Homo sapiens: one gene and its partners. The protein of the gene in region 3 purifies or fractionates together with the protein of the main gene of each other region. This does not show direct contact. Each region holds a gene or a part of one and is shown on either strand. Other genes may lie near its edges.

The links.
Region 1: the proteins of CPSF4 (region 3) and TTYH1 purify together in Homo sapiens (affinity purification with mass spectrometry; one large-scale study listed by BioGRID and IntAct). This does not show direct contact.
Region 2: the proteins of CPSF4 (region 3) and SMYD2 purify together in Homo sapiens (affinity purification with mass spectrometry; 2 studies listed by BioGRID and IntAct, with this or other methods). This does not show direct contact.
Region 4: the proteins of CPSF4 (region 3) and P4HA2 purify together in Homo sapiens (co-immunoprecipitation; 3 studies listed by BioGRID and IntAct, with this or other methods). This does not show direct contact.
Region 5: the proteins of CPSF4 (region 3) and TUT1 purify together in Homo sapiens (pull-down; one study listed by IntAct). This does not show direct contact.
Region 6: the proteins of CPSF4 (region 3) and WRAP73 purify together in Homo sapiens (co-immunoprecipitation; one study listed by IntAct). This does not show direct contact.
Region 7: the proteins of CPSF4 (region 3) and AHCYL2 purify together in Homo sapiens (affinity purification with mass spectrometry; one large-scale study listed by BioGRID and IntAct). This does not show direct contact.

Annotation. Positions count from the first base shown.
Region 1 is NC_000019.10:54,414,116-54,418,263, reverse strand, and holds the start of TTYH1 (protein tweety homolog 1), read right to left. Parts: upstream 2,801-4,148; 5' UTR 2,712-2,800; coding exon 2,586-2,711; intron 1,163-2,585; exon of another isoform or gene 1,129-1,162; coding exon of another isoform or gene 1-1,128. Other genes in the region: LIM domain-containing protein A-like, read right to left, coding at 1-1,128. UniProt on the Homo sapiens protein: Calcium-independent, swelling-dependent volume-regulated anion channel (VRAC-swell) which plays a pivotal role in the process of regulatory volume decrease (RVD) in the brain through the efflux of anions like chloride and organic osmolytes like glutamate.
Region 2 is NC_000001.11:214,287,659-214,291,158, reverse strand, and holds part of SMYD2 (N-lysine methyltransferase SMYD2), read right to left. Parts: intron 1-3,500. UniProt on the Homo sapiens protein: Protein-lysine N-methyltransferase that methylates both histones and non-histone proteins, including p53/TP53 and RB1. Specifically trimethylates histone H3 'Lys-4' (H3K4me3) in vivo. The activity requires interaction with HSP90alpha.
Region 3 is NC_000007.14:99,445,443-99,448,942, reverse strand, and holds part of CPSF4 (cleavage and polyadenylation specificity factor subunit 4), read right to left. Parts: intron 823-3,500; coding exon 670-822; intron 1-669. UniProt on the Homo sapiens protein: Component of the cleavage and polyadenylation specificity factor (CPSF) complex that play a key role in pre-mRNA 3'-end formation, recognizing the AAUAAA signal sequence and interacting with poly(A) polymerase and other factors to bring about cleavage and poly(A) addition.
Region 4 is NC_000005.10:132,210,854-132,214,353, forward strand, and holds part of P4HA2 (prolyl 4-hydroxylase subunit alpha-2 isoform 2 precursor), read right to left. Parts: intron 3,201-3,500; coding exon 3,063-3,200; intron 1-3,062. UniProt on the Homo sapiens protein: Catalyzes the post-translational formation of 4-hydroxyproline in -Xaa-Pro-Gly- sequences in collagens and other proteins.
Region 5 is NC_000011.10:62,578,038-62,581,523, reverse strand, and holds part of TUT1 (speckle targeted PIP5K1A-regulated poly(A) polymerase), read left to right. Parts: coding exon 1-138; intron 139-317; coding exon 318-418; intron 419-2,493; coding exon 2,494-2,963; intron 2,964-3,486. UniProt on the Homo sapiens protein: Poly(A) polymerase that creates the 3'-poly(A) tail of specific pre-mRNAs. Localizes to nuclear speckles together with PIP5K1A and mediates polyadenylation of a select set of mRNAs, such as HMOX1.
Region 6 is NC_000001.11:3,640,104-3,643,603, forward strand, and holds part of WRAP73 (WD repeat-containing protein WRAP73), read right to left. Parts: intron 1-3,500.
Region 7 is NC_000007.14:129,406,530-129,410,029, forward strand, and holds part of AHCYL2 (adenosylhomocysteinase 3), read left to right. Parts: intron 1-2,946; coding exon 2,947-3,017; intron 3,018-3,328; exon of another isoform or gene 3,329-3,500. UniProt on the Homo sapiens protein: May regulate the electrogenic sodium/bicarbonate cotransporter SLC4A4 activity and Mg(2+)-sensitivity. On the contrary of its homolog AHCYL1, does not regulate ITPR1 sensitivity to inositol 1,4,5-trisphosphate.

The DNA of each region.
Region 1 (4,148 bases), on a different chromosome or scaffold from region 3:
GTTCTGCGGTGGGCAGAGCCTTGCAGAATAACAGGGCTCTCCACGTGGCGGGGATTTCACAGCTGACCTGTGCGGTCCCAGAGGCCCACAGTGGCCCAGGGGGTTTGCACTGAGCCCCGGAGCATGGAGGGACAACATTGGGATCAGAGTCACACCTCTGGACTTGCCAAGGCTGTTTCCCCTAAACCACGGTGTTTCTGCCTTTGTCCACACACATACACACACACAGTGGCACAGTGTGTGTGTGTGTGTGTGTCCCAAGTGTGTGCAGTGTTTGTGTTTCTGGTTGAGACTGGATGTTTTTATCTTTGGGCTGTCTCCATGAGATGAGGGGGCACCTGAGTGTGTCTCCTGGGTGCACTGCTGTCTGCAAATGAGAACATCTGTGGGCATTTGTGTGTTCTGGGCACAGTTCCTTGGGCCTGTGAGTGGGTCCGGTTGTGTGTGTGTAACAGTGTGGATGAGTGTGTGTGTGGATGCGTGACTGCATGTGAGTGTGTGTGTGCACATGAATGCTATAGTCAATATGTGTGTGCATGTGTGTGTAGATGTGAATGGAATGTACGTGTGTGTGTGTATGGGAGTATAAACGTGTATGTGACGGTGCATGCATGAGTGTGTAAGCATATATATATAAGTGCAGTGTGTGCTTGTATATGGGAGTAAATGCTTATACATGTGTATGTGTGTGTTGTGAGTCACTGTGCGCAATGTGCGTGTGCATATGTGTGATTGTGTATGTGTAAGTGGGTATATCCATGTGAGTGTATGCATGTGTCTATATGCGTGTGTTGTATGTGGGTGTGAGTGCATAGCGGGAGTAGTAAATGGGTATGTGTGTGTGCATATGTGAGTGTGTAATGAGAGTAGGTGGGCGTGTGTGTGTACCTGTGCATATGTGTGTGTGCATGTGTGTAATGAAAGTAAGTGGGCGTGTCTGAGTGTGTGCATGTGAGTGTGCATGTGAGTGTGTAATGGGAGTAAGTGGGTGTGTCTGAGTGTGCCTGTGCATATGTGTGTGCATGTGAGTGTGTTGGAATAAGTGGGCGTGTCTGGGTGTGCCTGTGCATATGTGTGTGCATGTGAGTGTGTAATGGGAGTAAGTGGACGTGTGTGTGTGCTGTGCATATGCCAGTGAGTGTGTGCGTGTGGCTGTGTGCCTCCCCCGGGCCAGTGTCCCTGAGGCCCTGGCTGTGTCTGCAGCTGTACCCACGGTGGTCGCGTCCCTGCAGGGGTCCCCCTTGCCCTCCTCGGCTGTGGGGCTCTGCCCGCGCATCCCTGCCACCCTGACCCTGACCCCCGACCGTGGGGGCGGAGTGAGGCTCCCCCAAACCCGTGCCTCTGGCGGTGACTGGGGCCGCGGATCCCCGCGTGCGGCTTCGGGAGGTCTCCGGGCCAGAGCGGGCGTGAGTCTGGGCCGAGGCCGGAGCCGGTGGAGCGGCGTTGTTGGAGGTGGCCGTTGTGTAACCGCGAGGCTGTGGGCGAGGGGACGGCGGTCCCCGTGTGTGGGGAGAGGGGGCGGCGAGGAGCAGGCGGGGAAGAGCTGCTCAGGGCTGTGCCAGCCGTGACCCAAATAGCTCAGAACACAGCACTCATCCCCTCCGCGCTTTTCTGGGACCCCCTCCACGCCCCCTGAGCTCTCCAATCCCAGCCCCCTTCTCCCAGGAGCAACCCAAGACGGAGCCCAGGGGCTCAGGCCCCATCAGCAGGGCCAGGACCCGTCCTGGGGCCACATCGGGACTCCCAGCACCCCCACCCGTCCCCAGCTCAGCCAAGCCTTTCTCCTCATTAATCTCGAAGTCAAGGACTTGAATTAAACTGGGTCAGGGGACAGCTCTTTCGCCCATTGGAGCTGCCCCGAGCCGGGCCCCTTCCCCAGGGACACCGGCTTCTGTGAGGTTCCCACACCGGCCCCACCCTCGGGACCCGGGTCTGTCATCCCGAGGCTCCCCAAACCCAGCCTCATCTCGGCCCTCACCCCTGCAGCGCCCTGACCACCCCTTCTTTCTTGGGACGGGCAAGAAGCTTCCTCTCCCAGAGCCCCTTCATTTTCCAGCCCTGGTCCTCAGCCCCTGAAGCCCCCTTCCCCATTTCAGACTCTCAATCCCATCCCAGCACCGCAGCAGCCAGCGTTTTCCCCGCCACCGTTATCAGGTCCGCTGTCTCCTGGGTCCCACCTTATCTGGGACATATTCACCTGCTCTGATCCTGTGGGGCAGGGTCATCTTTTAGGGCAGGAAGAGTAGACCTACCCTCCCGATGACCCTGGAGGCCGGCTTCCCAGGCAGGTATCAGACACCCGGGAATCCGGGCCCCCCTCCCCTCCTCTCCATGAACTCAGGGGTGCAGGTCCCCAGCCTTCCCTTATTTAGAGAGCTCGAGGTCTGGACCCCCAGCGCGCGTCCCAGGAGAACCTCCAGGCATGGGCGCCCCCAGGCTCCTCCTCCCTCCGAAACCCCAAAGTCCGGGCCGGCCCCCAGCCTCCGGCGGAGCTCAGGAAATCTGTGACCCAGCCCCCTTCTCCCTCGGGACCCAGGAGCTCCGGCCCCCAGCCCTGGCCCCCAGGCCCTGGCGCCCGGTCCCACCTGCTGGTATTCCTGCTCTTGGGGCGCGAAAACGCTGGGCACCGGGCGGAGCTGGAAGTCGGCGCGGGGCAGCTGGTGGAGGAGATGCACCCAAGCTGAGGGCCGGTAGCCCGGGGGCGCCCCCATGGCCCCCGGGGGAGGGGGCAGCGGGGCGGACGCCGGGGCTGCGGGAGCCTCCGGAGTCGAGCGGGGCGCGGGCGGCGCGGGGTCTGGCTGGGCTCAGGGGAGCGGGAGCGGGGGGGAGGCAGGGGGTGGGGGGCGGAGATTGGGGGGAGGGAGGCGCGGGCCGGGCGGGGACGGTGCTGCCCCTGGTGGTCGCGGCGGGGACTGCGGGAGTCGGGAGGCCCCCAGCGCTCCGCGCCCCACCCCGGTCGCGGCTCCCACCTGCTGCCCGCGCAGGTACCGCGCTGCTGGCGTCGGCGGCATCCGGACAGCTGGCTTGCATCGCGATTGAAATCAGCCCTCCTTGTCCATACGAGGCCACTCATACTGTTATTTCACCTAAAACATAATGATCCCTTTATCCTTATGGAGAAACTTCATGTCTGTGTAAAGGTTGCTAGTAAGTACAGAGCGTTTTACAAAGAACGGCCAATTCCATGGATAAGAAGTCCTCTGTGTACGAAAGTGCTCCCACCTGTAAAAGATGCCCGTATTTGTGTAAAATCTCCGTCCCACTTTTATTCCTAGCCTGCATAAGGACACAGCTTCTAAGCACAAACACTCCTATGTGTAGAGGCTACTCCAGAATGTATGGAAAAATCCACACGCCTGTGTAGCAAGCCTTCATGCTGCATAAGGACCCCTTCTACCTGCATAAGGACCCTGGTCATCTATATAGGGGCCCTTCCCATCCTGTAAACTGACTCGGGATTACTTCGGTGTATACAAGGACCCCTGCCCCTTGGCATTCGCCATACAGTTACAGAGTATTTTTCCAGCCACTCCCCATGTTACATCTCACTGGAATCCTCCGATGCCACACCGATAGATGGGGAAGTGCCAACCCTGGGAGGGGACCTGGCCACCCTGACATCATCACCCAGACTGTCACTATTGCAGCCAAAACTAGGTGCTCAGGAATCTGGCCCCAGGGGTCCCCTCTTGCTGTAGGGCAGGGTGAGACTTTGCCATCTGGAAACCACACACGTGGCCTCTCTTGTGGGAATTGGGATGAGTGGAAGAAAGGGAGATTAGTTCTCCACTTAACCCATTTCCATATTTTGCTCCAGATTGGCAAGAAAGGGCTAGGGAAAAGAGGAATGCTGGTGGTAGCGGAGGTGGTGGTGATGACGATGATGGTGGTGATTATGTTGGTGATATGATGTCATGATGATGGTGATGGTGGTGATGGTGATGATGATGGTGGTGGTGGTGTTGATGATGGTGATGGTGATGATGATGATGATGGTGAAGACATGATTATGTTGACATGTCATGATGATAATTATGATGATGATGGTGGTGGTGATGGTGGTGACGGTGGTGATGATGGTGATGGTGGTGATGATGTTGGTGATGGTGATGGTGGTGGCGATGGTGGTGGTGGTGATGGTGGTGATG
Region 2 (3,500 bases), on a different chromosome or scaffold from region 3:
AGTTGTTTTCCAGAACTATAGAACCCACTAAGTGTCCACAAATACAAATGTTTTTGATTGAGTTAAAAAGTAGAATTCCTACCCTTAGGGAGTATACTATTGGCTCATAATTAAATGTGTCTTATTGGTGAGGTTTTAAGAGCATATGAGGCTATCACTGTGAACAGCAACTGTCACTGTACCATGGATTCACGGAATTGACAGAGAAGAGATTTTTCAGGTGGCAAATGAGCAAATGTTTCCTATCCAAACATCACCAGAGTAAGAAAAATCCCCATCTCATCAAAAATATGAGCCAGTACCTACATCCCTGAAGAGTCTTTCTTGGTACTCAGATTAAACAGAACACAGATTTCAACATAACTCCTTCCAAGTGCCAAGACATAAAATCCTTGAGCTTTTTATTTGGCTCTAATAAAAACCTGTATCTTTTTGGACAGCCAGATTATCTTACCACGTCCCTCCCCCAAGATACATTCAGGTCTTCAAGCCCTGTGTGAATTTCACTTCTCTAGGGAGTTGTCCTTGTTTCTCCTCTCCTCCATGGTGACTCCGCGTCCCCTGGGCACCAACACACCCTGAGCATCACAGTGCACTCACTAAGACACAACAGTGTCTTTGTTATTATAGCACGCATTCATTTTTATCTCTAGGGACTATAAACTTGCCAAAGATAAGCACTTATGAATTCTCAGATCCACTTTTTCTATAAAAGCTAACCCAATCCATTTTAATAACATACATACAATATTTCCACTTAGTCATCCGAAACCTTCCACTTCATGTACAAGAGTCGCTAGATTTTATGTTAATAAATTAACACAAGGAGTTCCACGCTATTTTTAAATTTTTGATTGAAAAAGAATCTGAGAGACACAGCTGGATTCTCAGCGAATGTACGGACTAGAAAGATAAGTTGTTTCCTGAACCTTCAAGACTTTTTTGTATTATTTTCCTGCTAAATTGCATATTTCTGTCCTTCAGAGAAGTCTTGAAGAGATCTGATTTCCTTCTGTTCTATTGTGTTGGTGTGAACGCCTTTGCAATTGAATAGGAAGCCGCGGAGGGTGGCAGGAACAAGTCAGCAGAAGTTACACAAAGTGAGGTGTGTGCTTTGTGACTGGTTAGAGCTCTAATGAGGCCAAGGTCATGGGTTCAACCCCTGAAAAGGCAGGTACTTCAGTTAATTCCCTGCCAAAGGACTGCACCCCTAAACTACTGCAGATTTCCTAGAAATCCAAAGAAGTGAAGGTTGGGGATGTGGGTGGGCTAACAATGCAAGTTCCTGAGAGGCAAAGGAGACCTCAAAATGCCCTGCCTCCCTCAAGTGTCAGAACAGGCCACTCATCAGGAGGAAGGGGCCAGTGCAGGGGCCCCTGCCCTGACACAGCCACAGAAAAACGCTGAGTGAGCAGGAGGATCAGAAGAGAGCTCAAGGTCTGAATCTGCCAAGTAAAATCAGGGTGCCTTGTTCTAGGTGTGTCTAGTTCCCTAGTGATCATCAGGACACACATACACATGTATTCAAAGATACGTAACCAAACCCATAGAGGAGCTGTCTGTGAGAAGAGCAGGAAATGAGAGGGAACATTCTGAAAAATCAAATTTGCCTTGCATATACCAGATAAAAGCATGCCTTGAACTCAGAAGTATGATTACCTCAACTACATCTGAGGTCCAAAAAAAGATGTGTGTGGATGGGGGGAGTCAATTTAATTATTCATGACTCCAGGAAGACAAAGCATGCTTTTAATTATTGATTGCTTCCTTCGAGGACAGAAATAAAGTGGCATAAAACAGTAATTATTTCATATTTTTATACTGACAGGGAAAAGAGGAGGGAATATTAACCTAAGTTCAAAGCAGTAAGCCTAAAACACCCAAATACAGTAGAAACTTCCTTTGCAATTCTCTCACTATATCAAATCCTAAAAGAGACAATTTTGCTGTCCTGAATTCTCACCAATTCTGAGTTCTCCCAAAGACCAGGTTCCTGCCAAACTATAGCAGTGAGCCCTGGATCTTCTCAAAGAAATTTAACATATTTTTACAAGAACCTTCTCACAGGTGGTGTGCAACTTGCCTGTTCTACAGGAATACCAACCAGGGGCTGCCTCCTATAGCTGCACCATAAATTCCATTTCCACAACTCAAGAGATTTAACTTCTGCAGAGAGAGATCCTGAAGAATGGATTTGCTTAAGGAAAAAAAAAAAAAAAAGACTATGGGCTGATGCTGCCCTATCACACGGCACAGAAACAAACTCTTTATATGTAGGTATAAAGGCTGAGATGACTAACTCTGGTTTAGTCCTAGCGTAATATTAAAAATATTCCAAGCCTACAAAAGGACCAAAGCCTCATGTTCTTTTTATGTTTTATTACATAATAATTCATACATATAAAAGAATATGTGTAGCTCTTATGCAAATTTCAAAGCATTATAATAAAAACAACATGTTTAAGTCCATATCAGCATAAAATATAGATCTAAGATGGCTGAATCAAACATTTTTTAAAACTTTAAATAATTCTTTAAACAATGCATTCGTTTGTTAAATTGTTGGCCAATTATAAATTCTATTCAATCAAGGAGATATCAGAGACGGATTAAGCCCCCAGTCTCCAGGGAACCACACAGTAGTAATGTAGGGTGAAGTCCCTGGGTGAACCACACAGTAGGTTCAGGCCAAAGGGGGGCACAGGAAGATCACACGAGGAACAGGGAGATTTGGCTCCATCCTTGAAGGTCATGGAGTCCGGCCTTTAAGAGGCACTCAATAAATATTTGACAAAAAAGGTGTGAAATTCAGAGAAACCACTTAACTTCTCTAACACTCAGTTTCTTTCTATGTAAAATGGAATAAGGCCCTGTGTATACCAGCCATCCTTGGAAGGATCAAAATAAGAATGTATCTGGAAATGCTTTATGGGCTGCAAAGAGCAATATGATTTAAAGAAATGCCATTTTATACAGGTTCTTCGAATTTTTTTTGATTGAGAGGATTCTGTGCAATTGCTTCGGGAGGGAAAGGTGTTAGATGGTGGTTTTAACTCACCAGGGTTTGAATTTCACTTCAGGATATCCTGCTGTTATTCTGTCTCTTTCATCTGAAATCGGTTCCAAACGTGCAGCTTGGTCACTGAGCCCCTATAAGCTATAACAGAAATTATGTTCCCCGCATATGAAAAATAACGTGAGTTACTGGCACATTTGAAGTCTTAAAGGATGGCTCCTTGCTGCTGTTGAAACAATTGTGCTGAAAGTAAAAGGCAGAAGGAACCCTGATATCCTTGCAATGTGGAAAATTCTGTTTTCTTCCATTTCTCTCTATAAATATTTGTTTTTTCTTATTAAAAGAATATTAAAGTGCCTAAGACTTTGGAGTGAGAAAAGGCTCTTTTTTGAAGAAGGTTTACCTGTGTAGGTATATTATATTATTTCCATTAGGTTTTGAAAAATACTGAAAACTAATCCCAGACCCCATCATTAATTCTGGG
Region 3 (3,500 bases):
TCAGGACAGCTGAGGCCACGCATTCTCTAAGCAGGGCTCAAGGCAAGTTTGTTGCTACCAGAAGACACATCTGAGGCTGTTATTTTGAAGGGCTATTTAGGATGGCTGAGATGTCACCAGGATCATGGCTCCTGGAGAGAAGGAACCAGCTCGGGCCTGAGAGGCAATGCCCACGCTGGAGGGAGAAGTGGGTTTCAGGGAGAAGGTGGACGTGGACAGAAACCAACCACGGACATAATGCAGCCAGCTGCACAACTCGCTGCTTCCGGGTCACCCTCGTTAGCCTCAAATCCGAGTGATTGAAAGAGCTCCAAACACTGAAGCACTCCAAAGTGATGCGCGGGGCCAGGCGTGGTGGCTCACGCCTGTAATCCCAGCACTTTGGGAGGCTGAGGCAGGCAGATCACTCGAGCCCAGGAGTTCAAGACCAGTATGTGAAACATAGCGAGACCCTATGTCTTTAAAAAAAAAAAAAAAAAAAAAGAGATGAGCAGAAAATAGCCACACTGTCCCCTAAAAGCTGGCTGAGGCTGGCAGGTTCTGCCAGAGTTCTCCTCTGAGAATAGAAAGATGGGAAAAGCAGGCAGAGACAGTGTGGGCACTGAGCAGCCAGCGGACCCCTCTGCACCCTGGTTCTCAGCAGAGCCTCCAGGGCTCCAGGCGCCTTACCGAACTTGGAGTAGAAGTAGCACTCGGGCATCTTGGTCATGTCATACTCATGCAGGAACTCACACTGGTCCCCTTTCTTGCATAGGCCACGCAGCCAGTGTTTGCACACAACTGTCTTCTCACCACTGATGTGGCGAAACGGACACATGCCCCCTGCCGGCAAGATAGGGACAGGGTGTCAGCAGAGAGGCCACCCTGAGCCTGGGGGACACGGCCTGAAGAAGCTGAGGTACCTTCACTTCCTAACTCCTGGAGCCACCTGAAGGCATCACGTCCTGGAAAGGGGCAGAGGTCCCCCTCACAGAAGGCAACATGATTTGAGGTACTACACTGACAGACATTTTACATTTTAATAGTTACTCATGGCCGGGCGCAGTGGATCACGCTGGTAATCCCAGCACTTTGGAAGGCCGAGGTGGGCGGATCACAAGGTCAGGAGATCGAGACCATCCTGGCTGGCACGGAGACCATCCTGGCTGTCACGGTGAAATCCTGTCTCTTCTAAAAATACAAAAAATTAGCCGCGCATGGTGGCTGGCGCCTATAGTCCCAGCTACTCGGGAGGCTGAGGCAGGACAACAGCGTGAACCCGGGAGGCGGAGCTTGCAGTGAGCAGAGATCGCGCCACTGCACACCAGCCTGGGCAACAGAGCAAGACACCTTTTCAAAAAAAAAAAAAAAAAAGTTACTCATGATCTCACAGATATTACTGTAAGATGGAGGAATTAAAAGGGGGGAGGTGCTGGGAGGCTGAGGTGGGTAGATCACGAGGTCAGGAGTTCGAGACCAGCCTGGCTGACATGGTGAAACCCCATCTCTACTAAAAGTACAAAAAAAATTAGCCCGGCTTGCGGGTGGGTGCCTGTAATCCCAGCTACTTGGGAGGCTGAGGCTGGAGAATCGCTTGAACCCAGGAGGCGGAGGTTGCAGTGACCGGAGATCACGCCATTGCACTCCAGCCTGGATGACAAGAACAAAACTCTGTCTCAAAAAAAAAAAAAAGAAAAAAAAAAAGAAAGGAACTTGGCCGGGTGTAGGAGCTCAAATCTATGATCCTAGCACTTTGGAAGGCCAAGACAGGAGAATCACTTGAGCCAAGAAGTTCGAGATCAGCCTGAGATCTTGTCTTCACTACATAAATAAATAAGTAAGTAAGTAAGTAAGCCAGCCAAGCAAGCTTGGGGACCAGGCACAGTGGCTCACACCTGCAATCGCAGTAGTTTGGGAGGCCAAGGCAGGTGCATCACCTGAGGTCAGGAGTTCGAGACCAGCCTGGCCAACATAATGAAACCCTGTCTCTACTAAAAATACAAAAAATTAGCTGGGCGTGGTGGTGTGCACCTGTAATCCCAGCTACTCAGGAGGCTGAGGCAGGAGAATTGCTTGAACCCAGGAGGCAGAAGTTGCAGTGAACCAAGATGACACCACTGCACTCCAGCCTGGGCAACAAGAGCAAAACTCCGTTAAAAAAAAAAAAAAAAAAAAAAAAAAAAAAAAAAAAAGCTGGGTATGGTGGTGTACACCTGTAGTCCTGGCTACTGAGGAGGCTGAGGTGGGAGGATCACTTGGGCCCAGGAGGTCAAGCTTGCAGTCAGCTATGACTGTGCCACTGCACTCCAGCCTGGGTGACAGAGTAAGATGCTGCCTCTTTTTTAAAAAAAAAAAAAAAGGAAAGACCAATTTCAGAATTGAGGAAATGTGATGTATACACATGGAGGGACGTGTCCCTTCTGGGACAGGACCTGATGGGACAGAGCCAGCCTCTGGGGATGTGTGAGACTTCTAACGGGTGGCCTGGCAAGACCACCATGGAGGTCCGACCAGAATGAGGCCGCTGTACACTTCTGCTGTCCAATATGGCAGCTGCTAGCCCCATGTGACTACTGAGCACTTGAAATATGACTAGTGTGTCTGAGAATTTTGTTTTAAATGTGATTTGATTTTACTTAAATTTGAACTGCCACATGTGACTAGTGGCTACTGTATTAGTCAACAGAGAGACAGAATGCCCTGTGTTAGGGATGGCTGTGCTAACAGAAGGTGGCTGGTCAGAAGGGCAGAATTACTGAGCAAAGACATGGGAATGAGACCAGAAACTCAGTGGAGGTAATGACGTTCTGACTGGACAGTGTGAAGGTGGCCTGGCTGATCTGCCAGAAAGTCTCCTACCTCAGTGGTAAATGACTACGTTATAGAAGCAAAACTCACCAAAACCATTCATTAAAACCAGCCCTTTGCTCTGATTCTCTGCTCTCTTTTTCAAGCTTCTGATTAATATTTAAGTCTCCTAAATAAATTTTCCTACAGGGAGAAAAATGCCCAGACCATGGAAAGTTTAGGTTGTACCTAGTGATACTTCTTTCTTTCTTTTTTTTTTGTTTTGTTTTGTTAAGACAGAGTCTCACTCTGTTACCTAGGCTGGAGTGCAGTGGTGCGATCTTGGCTCACTACAACCTCTGCCTAACAGGTTCAAGTGATTCTCCTGCCTCAGCCTCCCCAGTAGCTGGGATTACAGACGGGCGTCACCATGCCCAGCTAATTTTTGAATTTTTAGTAGAGACGATGTTTCACCATGTTGGCCAGGCTGGTCTCAAACTCCTGACCTCAGGTGATCCATCCACCTCGGCCTCCCAAAGTGCTGGGATTACAGGCGTAAGCCACCACGCCTGACCCCTAGTGATACTTCTGATGGATTAGCCCGGCCCACATACAATTATTAAAAGAGCACAGCCAGAGGGGTAACAAGATGGCGACCAAGACAGTGGAGCTCCATAAGCTGAAGCTTGCTGAACTAAAGTAAGAATGAATGTCTTGCTCGTGGTTTGGAGACG
Region 4 (3,500 bases), on a different chromosome or scaffold from region 3:
AGATGTCTGGTGGGCAGTTTGCCATATGAGTCTAGAGGATGGAAAAATTAGCTGAATATAAAAAACATAAATTTAGGTGGCAACCAAGCCATGGGTGAGGAAAATAGCTTGCAGGAACTCTGAGGAAAGAATGGAGAAGATGACTAAGGCCAGAGCTCCAGGGAGCACCTACCCAGAAAGAACAGACAATGAATAACCCTGAGAATGAACTAAAGATAGGAGAAACAGAGGGAGCGGGAGTGGTGTGAGAGACACCAAGGGAGGCCAAGAGCCAAGGTTGCAGTGCCAGCTTTGGCTGTTAAGTGGCAGGGACCTTGCTGAGTATCAGTTCAGTGGGTCTTATGACCAAAGGTCATCTGCTGTAGAGGGAGTGCTGGAAAGTGACCATGAAGATAGTTTCAAGCCAATATGAAGAAGCAGCTATAGGGAGATGCAGGATTTAGGGTGAGCTCAAGATGGGAAAGACTATGTGTGTGGTTCCTCAGAGAATAATGAGAAAGCAGATACCATGGAGGGGAAGTGGGGGCTGTGACTCTCCCTGGAAAGCAAGGAAGACTCCCCACAGCCCCATTAACAGCAACCTGGGCATGGCTGACACAAAAGAACTCAGAGAAGGCTCTTTCTGCCTGGAATGAAACCACTACACAGTAGGCTAAATGCTTCAGAGACCAGGGTCTGCTAACCCCGGTGGCTCAGGAACCAATAACGAGGAATAGGAAGTTGGGGACAGTAAACACAAGATGAAGTCCCTAGGTAGGCCAGGGACTGGGGGGCTCCTGGAGCCCCTTTTCCTTCTCCACAGGTCTCCTCTGGCTCTGCAGGCCCAGGAACCTACATTGCTGGGGCAGAGTAACATAGCTGACTGAGCTGGGGCTCTGGAGCTGAACTAAACTAGGTTTGTGTTGGCCTCACTAGGGCGCCAACCAGCTGTGTGACTATAGACAAGTTACCATATCTAAGTCTCAGTCCCCTTATCTCTAAATAAAGATAATATCATCAATTTTAAAGAGCTTGTGGCAAGAATTCAATAAGATGACATATGAAGATGTCTCCTATGCTCCCCAGGATGCTAATGACCAGTAGCTATTATCAACATGTCTCCCAGATGCCAAGAATGCTAAGAATGGCTCCCTGGCACTCAGCATCCTCCCCAGAGCCAACTCGAATGTCTACTCCCTGGAGAGCATTTGGGAGAGTGACAGCTGAGCTGAGTGCTGATAGGCAATCAGACATGGAGTAGCCTAGCTGACATGGGTAAAGGTATTCCTATAGAGGGGTTGAGACAAAAGAGCTGAGTGATAGGGAAAGCTGAGTACAATGGGCAAGGAAGCCAGGAAAATGGAGTCATGCAGGACCCCAAAGACCACACACAGGAGGAGTTTGGGTTTAGCTTTGGAAATTAAGCACAGTAATCAGGAACTCATGTGAACAAATGTGTGCTTAAGACCACATGGAGGATGGTCTTAAGCAGTAAGCTGGAGGTAGGAGACAAGTCAGAATGGTATTTTGATAATCAAATTGAGAAAAAAGTAGCTGTGAGGCTGGAGTCAGGGGATAAGCACGGAAGACATGAGAGAAGGAGGTAGAATCCATAGGCCTTAGGCTTCTGGCTTAGGCAGCCAGAGGATGGAGGTCCTTTTTGCTGAGATAGAAGGATGAGGGGGAAGGTAAAGTGTTTACAAGGAGATGAGGATTTCAGTTCAGGACACATGAAGTTCGAGAAGTCCATGGGACATTCAAGTACAGATGTCCCAAAGGCATCCGTCTACACTGGTTAGAAGCTCGGGAGACAAGCCTTGGCAAGAAACACAGATCTGGATGTCATCCACCTCAGGTGATGGAAATGGCTGTGCTCACCTGGGGAAGGTGCTCAGGGAGAAGATGAGGTAAGGATGGAGTCCTAGGGAGTAATTCCTTTCTGCCCCATAACCCTATTCAGGACACTCATGGGTTTGCTGAGTGAACGTGAGAGGTCAACGCCAGGGTATGGTTCCCTCCTCCAAGCAACCAATCTCAAGGCTACAGAGTGAACAGATCTTGCAGGTGCCCTGAACTGCCCTCTCTCTAATGGAGTCTAAAGGGGGCAGCTGAGGTTCTGGAGCTGGAATAAGCTGGGTCTGCATGAGCCTCACACAGTGAATCGCTGGGGTTACTTGTCTCCAGCAGCCCTCAAAACATCTTCTTATAAACACTAACACTGGGAAGTCAGTGGGAGAGGGGCCACTTGAGAGAAAATGACCAGAGAGGCTAAAAGAGAAGCAGATATCAGTATGCCAGAATTCAAAGGAGGAGAGAACATCACAAAGAATGAGGCAATCTATCTGTCAAATGCTGCTGGGAAGTTAAAGAACATTATGTGTGAACCTTGTTCGCTGGGTTTACCAGCCAAGCGGCCACTGATGACCTTGTAAGAACAGCATCAGTGACAGTGGGGAAAAAGGCCAGATACTGTGAGTTCAGGAGTATATGGGAACCAGGAAAATGGACAGAGTGTAGATTACTCTATCCAGTAGCCTAACCAGGAGGGGAGAAGAGATGAATCAGCAGCAAAGACTCGAAAGACTCTCAGATACCGAGGGAGGCAAGTGTTAAGATGAGCAAGAATAGAGCCTATATGGGAGCTCAAGGGTAGAACCCAGAGAGGTGGAGACAGAATGTATAGGAGCAGAGACTGTAACTAAGAGGACTCAAGACAGGGGGATAGTAAGCCCAGATCAGCCTTAGATGAAAAGACATTGGAGGGTGGGAGACAAGAAGCAGGTCTGAATGCAGATCTGTGTGGTGCTCTGGGGACAGACGTGGAGGGGGTTCCTGAGCAGCAACTTTGGCTTTCTCTGAGATGCAAGAGGAGAGGGCCTTGGCTAATACATGGAGGGAGGTGGCAGGGCAGGGGCTGAGGGAGAAACCTGTCATGGGAGAGGGAGTCCAGCACAAACTGGTGAGCCAAGAGGTGCACCAGAGGTGCACCCGAGGTTAAAGGCCACAAGTTGGTGGTGGCTCCAACCTGTCCCGCCACTAAAGAGACACATGCGGGACAGGCAACGCCTGGAGTGGTGAGTTACCTGGAAGTTCCCCTCTGGAAATTGTGCCTGGGTCCAGCCTGTATGTGTCCTGAAGTCTCATCAGGGCTTTGGCAGCTCCTATCTCGTCCTCATCAGTGGGGAAGAACTGCCGCTGCACAGAGAGGTTGGCGATAAAACCTTCCAAATGAGAGTCAGAACAAGAGATTACCCTTGATCCAGGGGCAGAATTCCACTTGGGACCAGAGAGGCAGCCACAAAGAGGGTCTCTGGCTAGTGAAATTTCCCCGCCCCCTCCCTCAAAGGCTGTTGCCCCCTTCCACCAGGAAGTTGTCCCTGATGACTCCAGTCTATGGGGACTTTTCCTTTCTTACTCCTCACCATACCTACTGCCTGTGTTGCTCTTTGGAACTAAGTAGAAGCAGCCCCCCATATTGGTTAATATTTAGGAGTCCAGAAGTCTTGGCTCCAAATCATTCA
Region 5 (3,486 bases), on a different chromosome or scaffold from region 3:
AAGCGCTAGCTGAGGCTGCAGACGTGGGGGCACAAATGATAAAGCTTGTGGGGCTGAGGGAGTTGTCCGAGGCCGAGCGGCAGCTTCGCAGCCTAGTGGTGGCCCTGATGCAGGAGGTCTTCACAGAGTTCTTCCCTGGTAAGTTACCTCCCCTACTATGTCTGAGCCCTCCCTGGCCTTTGCTCTCCTGTGTCTGTATCCCCAGTCCTTCCTCCGCTAGAGGTGTTTGGTTGCTCTTCCATCTTTGTGCTCTGTTTTGTTCTTCCCCCTGCTCCTCCCTAACTTCTCTTGACCTTTCTTCTCTGCTCGGCACCCAGGCTGTGTGGTCCACCCTTTTGGCTCTTCCATAAATAGCTTCGATGTCCATGGCTGTGATCTTGACCTCTTCTTGGATCTGGGTGACTTGGAAGAGCCCCAGGTGAGTGAGTGTCCCAGGGAGGCAGCTGGGAAAAGTCCATGAGAATGGCCATGTGACTGTGGGCAAGTCCTTTAGCTCTCCATGTCTTAGTTCCTCATCTACAATGCAGATAATAGGACCTACCTGAAAGAGTTTATTGTAATTGGAGAGATGTGAATATGGATGAGTATTAGATAGGATGAAAATGAACTGACAGGGCCAGGCGCAGTGGCTCGCGCCTGTAATCCCAGCACTTTGGGAGGCTGAGGTGGGTGGATCACCTGAGGTCAGGAGTTCAAGACCAGCCTGGCCAACATATAGTGAAACCCCCATCTCTACTAAAAAAAAAATACAAAAATTAGCTGGGTGTGTGGTGTACACCTGTAGTCCCAGCTACTTGGGAGGCCGAGGCAGGAGAATCACTTGAACCCGGGAGGCAGAGGTTGCAGTGAGCCGAGATTGTGCCACTACACTCCAGCCTGGGTGACAGAGGGAGACTCCTCAAAAAAAAAAAAAAAAAAAAAAGAATTGACATGGATACCTGGCAGTCATAACAAAAAAAAAATTTCAAAATGGTGTGTGCAATATGATCTTATTTTGGAAAAAATATATTTAAAATTATACAATAAGGTCCTTTTAGTTTTGCTTATGTGTATTTTTTTTTTTTGAGAGACCGTCTAACTCTGTCACCCAAAATGGAGTACAGTGCTGTGATCTCGGCTCACTGCAACCTCCACCTCCTGGGTTCAAGTGATTCTCGTGCCTCAGCCTCCCAAGTAGCTCGGAATACAGGCACACGCCACCATGCCTGGCTAATTTTTTGTATTTTTAGTAGAGATGGGATTTCTTCATGTAGGCCAGACTGGTCTTGGACTCCTGGCCTCAAGTGATCCACCCACCTTGGCCTCCCAAAGTGCTGGGATTACAGGAATGAGCTACCATGCCCGGCCACTTAACCTGTATTTTCTAACATCTAATGTACAGATTCTGTTTAGGAAAGGATTATTATTATTACTTAGAAATAGGGTCTCACTATGTTTCCCAGGCTGGTCTCGAACTCCTGGGCTCAAGGAATCCTCCTGCCTCATTCTCCCAAATTGTTGGGATTACAGGTTTAAGCCCCCATGCCCAGCCTATTATTATTTTCAAAAAATAGACTTGGCCGGGCGCGGTGGTTCACGCCTGTGTAATGCCAGCACTTTGGGAGGCAAGGCAGGTGGATCACCTGAGGTCAGGAGTTTGAGACCAGCCTGGCCAACATGGTGAAATGCTGTCTCTACTAAAAATACAAAAATCAGCCGGGTATGGTGGCACGTACCTGTAATCCCAGCTACTCAGGAGGCTGAGGCAGGAGAGACAGCTTGAACCCAGGAGGCGGAGGTTGCAGTGAGCCGAGATCGCGCCACTGCACTCCAGCCTGGATGACAGATTGAGACTCCATCTCAAAAAAAAAAAAAAAAAAATGGACTTTATTTTTTAGAGCAGTGTTAGATTCACAGCAAAAGTGAGCAGAAAGTAGTTTCTATATGCCTGCTGCCCCCGCAACAGGAGTTTTAAAATGTTTTATCATTATTTTTATCTTTCTCTACACACACACACTCTCTATTTATATTTTCTGAATCATCTGAGAGAAGGTTGCATGTATCACATTCCTTTACCCCTCAATACTTCAATGTGTGTTATGCAAGAACAAAGGTATTCTAGTGTAAAGGTATTCTAGTGTATAACCACAGTACCATTATCAAGTTGAGGAAATGTTACATTGACACAGATGTAAACCTTTACAGACTTTACAGTCCATACTCTAATTTGGTCAGCTGTCCTGTCAATGGACTGTTACAGTTTCTCTTTCGTCTGTAATAGTTCCTCTGTTTTTGTCTTTCACGACAATGACATTTTTTGCAGAGGTAGACCTTTTATTTTATAGAATTAAAAGGTTATCTTTAAAAAAAAAAAGGGTTCCTGTGAAGATTAAATGAGTTAATATGTATAAAGACCTTAGAATAGAGCTGAATAAGCTGGAAGTAATATTATCTTGAGAGATCCCTGCTTAGGGAACAGCAGAAACATTTCACTCAGTTCATTTCTGTCCACAGCCAGTCCCAAAGGCTCCAGAATCTCCATCGCTGGACTCGGCCCTGGCTTCCCCACTGGACCCTCAAGCCCTGGCCTGCACCCCAGCTTCCCCTCCAGATTCACAACCTCCTGCTTCTCCCCAGGATTCTGAAGCCCTGGACTTTGAAACCCCTTCCTCCTCCCTGGCGCCCCAAACTCCGGACTCTGCCTTGGCCTCCGAGACCCTTGCTTCTCCCCAGTCTCTGCCTCCAGCTTCACCACTGCTAGAGGACAGGGAAGAGGGGGACCTGGGGAAGGCCTCGGAACTAGCAGAGACCCCAAAGGAGGAGAAAGCAGAGGGGGCAGCAATGCTGGAGCTGGTGGGATCCATTCTCCGGGGCTGTGTCCCTGGGGTGTATCGAGTCCAAACTGTGCCCTCTGCCCGGCGCCCTGTGGTCAAGTTCTGTCATCGGCCTTCAGGTCTCCACGGTGATGTCTCCCTCAGTAACCGGTACCTTTCTTTTTTTTGAGACGACATTTCACTCGTTGCCCAGGCTGGAGTACAGTGGTGCCATCTTGGCTCTCTGCAACCTCTGCCTCCCAGGTTGAAGTGATTCTCCTGCCTCAGCCTCCCAAGTAGCTGGGATTACAGGCATGCGCCACCACGCCTGGCTAATTTTGTATTTTTAGTAGAGACGGGGTTTCTCCATGTTGGTCAGGCTGGTCTTGAACTCCCGACCTCAGGTGATCACCTGCCTCGGCCTCCCAAAGTGCGGGGACTACAGGCGTGAGGCACCATACCTTTCTTTGGGGCAGGCCAGCTGAGAATTCTGGGATGGGCCAGGAGAGTCTGGCTTGGGAAACTCCTGCACCTGCCAAGTCTCAAGTTTGTCCTTGTTTGGGACCATCCCTCTTTCTGTCCCTTATCTCCTCCTGCCTGGCTTCCATTTCAGTGTTTGTAAAGTGTGTTCCTTAGAATACTACTTTTTTTTTTTTTTTTTTTTTTTTGTGAGACGGAGATTTACTCTTGTTGC
Region 6 (3,500 bases), on a different chromosome or scaffold from region 3:
AACACACAGGTAGTGGATCAACGAGCTCCAGGGGTCACGTGGCAGCACGGAAGGGCTCCTGTGCTGATGCTGAACCCGAAACACACTGGCCGTTCTGGGGACCATGCCTCGGAACTCCAGCTGCACAGAGCACTTGCTCCTCTAACAGCTCCACAAGCTGAGGCCAAGGAGGGCGCTGGGGCCTGAGCGAGGAAGCGTGCTACTTCCCACCAGCGTGTCTGAGGCTGAAACCTTGCCCAAGCCTCTCAGACTCAGCAGGGTGGGTGCAGCGCCTGAGGCTCTGAGCATCAGCAGGGCGGGGTGGAGCGCCCGAGCATCTCAGCATCAGCAGGGCGGGGTGGAGCGCCCGAGGCTCTGAGCATCAGCAGGGCAGGGTGGAACACCCGAGGCTCTGAGCATCAGCAGGGCGGGGTGCAGCGCCCGAGGCTCTGAGCATCAGCAGGGCGGGGTGCAGCGCCCGAGGCTCTGAGCATCAGCAGGGCAGGGTGGAACGCCCCAGGCTCTGAGCGTCAGCAGGGCGGGGTGGAGCGCCCGAGGCTCTGAGCATCAGCAGGGCAGGGTGGAGCGCCCGAGCATCTCAGCATCAGCAGGGCAGGGTGCAGCAACGGAGCATCTCAGCATCAGCAGGGCGGGGTGGAGCACCCAAGCATCTCAGCATCAGCAGGGCGGGGTGCAGCGCCCGAGCCTCTCAGCATCAGGAGAGTCCATGTGCCACCCAGGGCAGAGACCTGCCCTCCAGAGCCTACTGCAGAGTCACAGGAGAAAAGCACATCTCCCACCTGTGGCCCTGCATCCCTGTGGGGTGCGCCTGGCCGAGGCTCCCCACTCAGGCACATCTTAGGAAACACAGGGAGCACTTTAAGCCTGATTTTTACCTTCATCTCACAAAAACAAAGAAACAAAAACCTTTAAAAGATAACTTTGCAACTTTTAAAAACCCAATAAGAAAAAAAGGTAGTTAAATATACACCTTCATCAGCGCTGTTACCTTCCACTGACCACTGGAGAAGCCAGCGGAGGAGACCCGTGGGATGGGCTCCACAGCACTCAGCAGCAGGAAGAAAGGACCAGAGGGATCCACATGACCCAGAGCACTCAGGAGGGAAGGAAGGGGCCGCTGATCCACGCTACGACCCAGTGTGCTGAAGACGGAAGGAACGGGCCACCGATCCACACCACAACTCAGCATGCTCAGGGTGAGAGGAATGGGCCACGGATCCAAGCCATGACCCAGTACACTCAAGACGGGAGGAACAGGCCACTGATCCATGCCACGACCCAGCACTCTCTCCACACCATGACCCAGCACTCTCAAGATGGAGGAACGGGCCACTGATCCACCCCACAACCCAGCACACTCAAAACCAGCAAGATGCCAGGGAAAAGGAAGCAGACGCACAGCTCCACGCACCATGGCTCTGTGCAGATGGGATTCCGAGTAGGCAGTGCTGCTCGCCCCGCAGCAGGCACCGGCTGCCGGACACAGGTGGGAGACGGACTGAGCACAAGGGGCACGAGGAGCCCCATGCCACGGGCGAACAGTCTTGGTCCTGATTGTGGCGGCAATGACGTGCAAAGTGACTCACTCAACTGTGCTCTTAAAGTGGGTGAATTCTCTTGCTTATAAATTGTTTTAATTGCCTTTATTCAGATATAAGAAAAAGTCTGCAGTCTGGATATATTTTTAAAGCTAACTATAGACTATTTACAACATACACACTCAAGTTTAAGGATGCAGAAATGTAGAAGGTAAAAGGATAGAAAAAGACATATCAAGAAAATCCTAACCAAGAGAAAGGTGGCACTGCCGCATTCGTACGGGATAAATCAGACTCTGAAACAAAAAGAACCGTGAGACATAAAGAGGAATACTTTACAACAAAAGGCCTGTGCCACCGCGGAATCATGGGAACCGCTTCACTAGGAAATCTGTTTACAAACAGTTAAAAGTTTGTATGCAGCTAACAACAAAGTCTCAAAAATACATTTAAAAATCTGGCAGAGCCGGGCGCACTGTTGTGCACCTGTAATGCCAGCTATACAGGAGGCTGGGAAGGAAGGATTGCGTGAGTTTAGGAGCTCGAGACCAGCCTGGGAAACAAAGGGAGACCCCAACTCTACAAAAAAATTGTTTTTAAAAAATCTGACAGACTACAAGAGCAATGAAGAGGAATCAGTCCCATCAGATATTCAAACACACCATAGAACCTCAATAATGTAGACAGTGTGGTGCTGGCACATAGGTGGACCAACAGTGGACTGGAATGGAAACCAGAAGTGATCCTGCAGGTATAATGGAACTGAGCTCCTGCTATAGCTGGTGAAGATAGCCTTCTAAATAAATGCTGCTGGGAGCTGGGCACGGTGGCTCACACCTGTAATCCCAGCACTTTGGGAGGCCGAGGCAGGCAGATCAACTGAGGTCGAGAGTTTGAGACCAGCCTGACCAACATGAGAAACCCCATCTCTACTAAAAATACAAAATTAGCCAGGCGTGGTGGCGCATGCCTGTAATCCCAGCTACTCGGGAGGCTGAGGCAGGAAAATCGCTTGAACCTGGGAGGCGTAGGTTGCGGTGAGCTTGGATCACACCATTGCACTACAGCCTGGGGGACAAGAGCGAAACTCCATCTCAAAAAAAAAAAAAAAAAAATGCTGCTGGGAAAAGGTAGAAATGGATTCAGACCCCACAGTGTGCCCCACTACGTGAACCTGCTTCATTTAAATGGAGCATGTGTGAGCGTCTGTGTGTAATGAAACAAGATAGGAAAGCACTCAACCTCACCGAGAATTAGGGAAACGCAAACTAAATCCAAACTGCAGTATCATTTAGTCGCCTGGATGGAATCATTGTAATCCTGCCACAAAAGCCTTGGCAAATGAAACCCCTCCGTCTGCTACGGCCAAGCAAGGCTCTCCTAGAGAGGCTCTCCGGGTATGTGCCCAGGAGACGGGGACAACACGTTCACAGCCACACCGTCCGTGGTGACGCACACGTCCAGCAGGCGAGGACTGAATGGCGTTCCTCACGAGGAAGGGAAGGCCCAGCGATGCCTGTCAACACGGAGGAGTCTAAAAGCAGTGACGGGGAACAGCAACAGCAGAGACTGCAAAGTACAAGCCCCTATAAATCAACTTTACACTGCACAGCAAGCAATGTGGTGTTTAGACACATCTGTACAGTGAGACTCAAGAACAGTGAGGATGTGATTCACGCAAGACGTGGGGCAAAGGTGCCCTCAGGTGGGGAGGGCATTGCTACGAGGAAGAGAAGGGCTCTGAAAGCGCGGCAGTGTTCCGCTGCAGGCCTAGGGGTGAGCCGCTTTTGATGACTCACTGAACCTCGTCTAATGGGCGCAAGCTTGCCTTTTCACGTTAAAATGCAAGAGGCAGGGACGTCTCCCATGCTCCACAGCACCCTCACGTGGGGTGGCGCCTTCGCAAGTGGACTCAGCGGCCCCACTAACCCCCGAAATGGGGTCGCGCCTTCGGAAGGGGAC
Region 7 (3,500 bases), about 30 Mb from region 3:
GATGCCACACTTTATTTTAGAGGAGCCCAGATCCTCAGAGATGCTGCCACTAACTCTAAGCATCTGTCTTTTAAAAAGGTCAAGGAGCTCTGCTTGGAGAGAGCAGAGACTATCAGAAAAGCGAAAATTTAGAAATCCTGTGGAGATAGTAACAGGGATTCTGTCAGCCAGAGAACAGGTAGCCCCTTACCTTCTCCATGTATGATACTTGCCTTTCAAATAATGATCAGAAAAGAAATTGGCAGGCATCAGATGCCTTCTGATGTGTTACACTGAAAATAGCCCTTCTGTGGTATTCCTCCCAAAAATGTATAACCTGAATCTAATTGTGAGGAAACATTAGACCAATCCCAGTTAAGGGTAAAATCTACTAACTCTGAGTGAAGCATATATGAGAATTATTTACACTAGTATTATAATTCTTAAGTTTGAAATGATTCTAAAATTAAAAGTTAAAACTTTTCTTATCTATAAAATGTGTGTAATCATACCTACCTCATAGGATTGTGAGAGTTCAGTAAAATAATAATTAGCATAGGCTGGGTGTAATGGGTTCATGCCTGTAATCCCAGCACTTTGGGAGGCTGAGGCAGGAGGATTGCTTGCGCCCAGGAGTTCGAGACCAGCCTTGGCAACATAGGGAGACCCCATCTCTACAAATAATTTTTTTAAATTAGCTGGGTGTGGTGGTGCATGCCTGTGGTCCCAGCTACTTGGGAGGCTGAAGTATGAGTATCACCTAAGCCTGGGAGGTGGAGGCTGCAGTGAGTTGTGATTATGCCACTACGCTCCAGCCTGGGTGACCCAGCAAGACCATGTCTCAAAATAATTATTATTCTATATTATACATTATATAACAAATACATAATTATATAAGGTACAGAGCTGCTGCCACATAATATATGCTCATTAAATAATAGCTGTTATTAAAATTGTCTCTTGCCATCCTCAGCAGGGTGGGAAATACCACTGTTCTTAAAAACTATTGCAGAGTCCAAGTGTCTGTAGCCTAGGGGAACCATCATCCTTCTGGTACACTAAGAGTTTAGGAACCTGAACATATTTTAATACAAATTGATACTGTTCAGATACTGAACAGTTCAGATTATCCTGTTCAGATTATCCTGTAGACACGAATTGATCACTTACTATGCATTAGATACTGTGCTATGTGCTGAGAATGAATAAGATGAATATATAAATGAGATAAGGTCCTGCTTTTAGAAGCACACAGACAGATAACCACTGTGCAGCAAAGTAAGTGCTGTCATGGAGTTAAACGGCACATGCTTCTGTAGGAGCATAAAGGAGAAATTGCTTACTGAAGAGCAAGGGAGCAGGGTAGAAAGAGATGTCAGCAGAGCTGAGTCTTGACATTTGTATAGGTGTTTTCTTAGTTTGGAAGTATATTCCAGGTACTGGGAACATGTGTGTTGTCTCCAAGGAAGGAGATAGCATGGCAGATTTAAGAAGCTAGAAATATTTTAATGTAGTTGGCAGATGAAATACATTTGGGGGAGTGGTACTATCTAAGGTAGGAGTCATGGGAGTCATATGTCAATATAATCACATATCACTGTAAGTATTTGGGTCTTACTCTTATCCTGTCTTATCCTTAAGAACAGGCAGTCTCACTGAAGTATTTTAAGGAAAGGAAGCGACATGATCCAAATTGCATTTAGGAAAATCACTCTGCCAAATGATTTAGAAAGATGTAAACCTAGAGGCAATGAGATTGGGCCAGGGGTTACTATAGTAATCTAGGCAAGAAGTAATAAGACCTAAACTTAAGCAAGGCCAGTATGTATTAGAGAAGAGTAGAGAGATGAAAGAGACGTTTATGGAATTAAAGAAAAAGAGTCACCCAGATTTGGTGACAACTTCAATTCAGGAGAGGCAGCAAGGACATTCTTGTTTATATGGCTCATTCAGTTGGATGAACAGTGATGCTATTGATCAAGATAGAAAATATAGAAGAAGAAATAGATGAGATTATGGGTGCAGAGAAAATAATAAGTTTATTTTCAAACACAGTAAGTTTGAGATCCTTCTGGGACATTGATGAGGTGCTATCCAGTGGCTAATTTGATCCTTGGCTATGAAGCTTCAGAGAGATCTAAGCTAAAGTTACAAATGTAAAAATCAGCCATCTATCAGCAGTCATTTGCAGCCAAAGGAAGAGTATGGTTCTCTATACTGAAAGAATAGAGAAAAGAATAAAGGCATAACCCTGCAGAGCACCAATATCCAAAGGTTGGCTGAAGTTGAGGAGAGGCAATTAAGAGAAGTAAGAGGAAAACCAGGAGAGATGTATCATGGAGTCCAAGGGGTATAGAGTTTTAAGAAGGCAAATAATGTTTAATGTAGTAGAAGAAATCAAATAATATAAGAGTCTAAGAAGTTGGGCATGGTGGTGTATGCCAATAGTCCTGGCTACTCAGGAGGCTGAGGCAGGAGGATTGCTTGAGGCCAAGAGTTAGAGGCTGTAGTGCACTATGATTATGCCTGTGACTAGCTACTGCACTCCAGCCTGGGCAGCATAGTGAGATCCCATCTCTAAAAAAAAAAAAACACACACAGTTAAGAGTCTAAGAAATCTTGGGTTTGGCCTTCGGGGGATCACTGATGATCTTGGAGAGAGCAGTTTCAATGGGGTAGTTGGTTAAATGGCTAAGTGGCACTTTCTACAGTTTCTAGAAATTTGGTCAGGGAATCTCATGGTAGCCCCTGGCTCCCTATTATCAGGAAGAAATAAGTTCCGTGATGCAAACGAACCTTTTATTTCTGTCTTGTATGAACTAAGGAAATTGTTTGGATTTTTCACTTCTAAGAATAGTTCAGCTATCTCAAGAAATGACAGCAACTTGATATTAGCTTTTGAAGTCCTGTGTTAAAAGGCTCCCCAGCTGCCTGTTTAGGTTAATGGGTCATGCTTTATTTCAACAGTATGGATGGATTTCGACTGGTGAAATTAAATGAGGTCATCCGACAAGTGGACATTGTTATTACCTGTACAGGTATGATAATGACATTTTAAATGGGGTGGCACTTGGGAATGTTTTTATGGAGCAGGTGCAAGATGATTGGAAATATTCTGAAAAACCAAACTCTAAAAGCTAGAGAGAGATAGTAGCCCACAAAGCCAGCCAGTCTTTCACATTCTTCCTAATTCTTTAGAGCTCCGACCAAAGGTATACGATTAGGTTATTCCTATGTAAAAATGTTTCTCTTCACCCTTGAAGACAACTGTTATATCTCCATTCATCCTAGGAGATAGCTAGAGATGAGATTCACTTATAAAGTTTTATTTGGGAAGCCAGATATTTTTTTTTTCCAAAAATATATTTATTTTTAAAAACAGAAAATCAGATCAGTTTTATAGAGTCAAATTTTCAAGAGACAAACCAGAGTTTGGATTCCAGCTTAGAGTGCAAGTGAAGCATCAGTAATCTCATGCAGAAGATTTGTCTCTGCAGGAGGTACATTCTGCTTGACTGCAA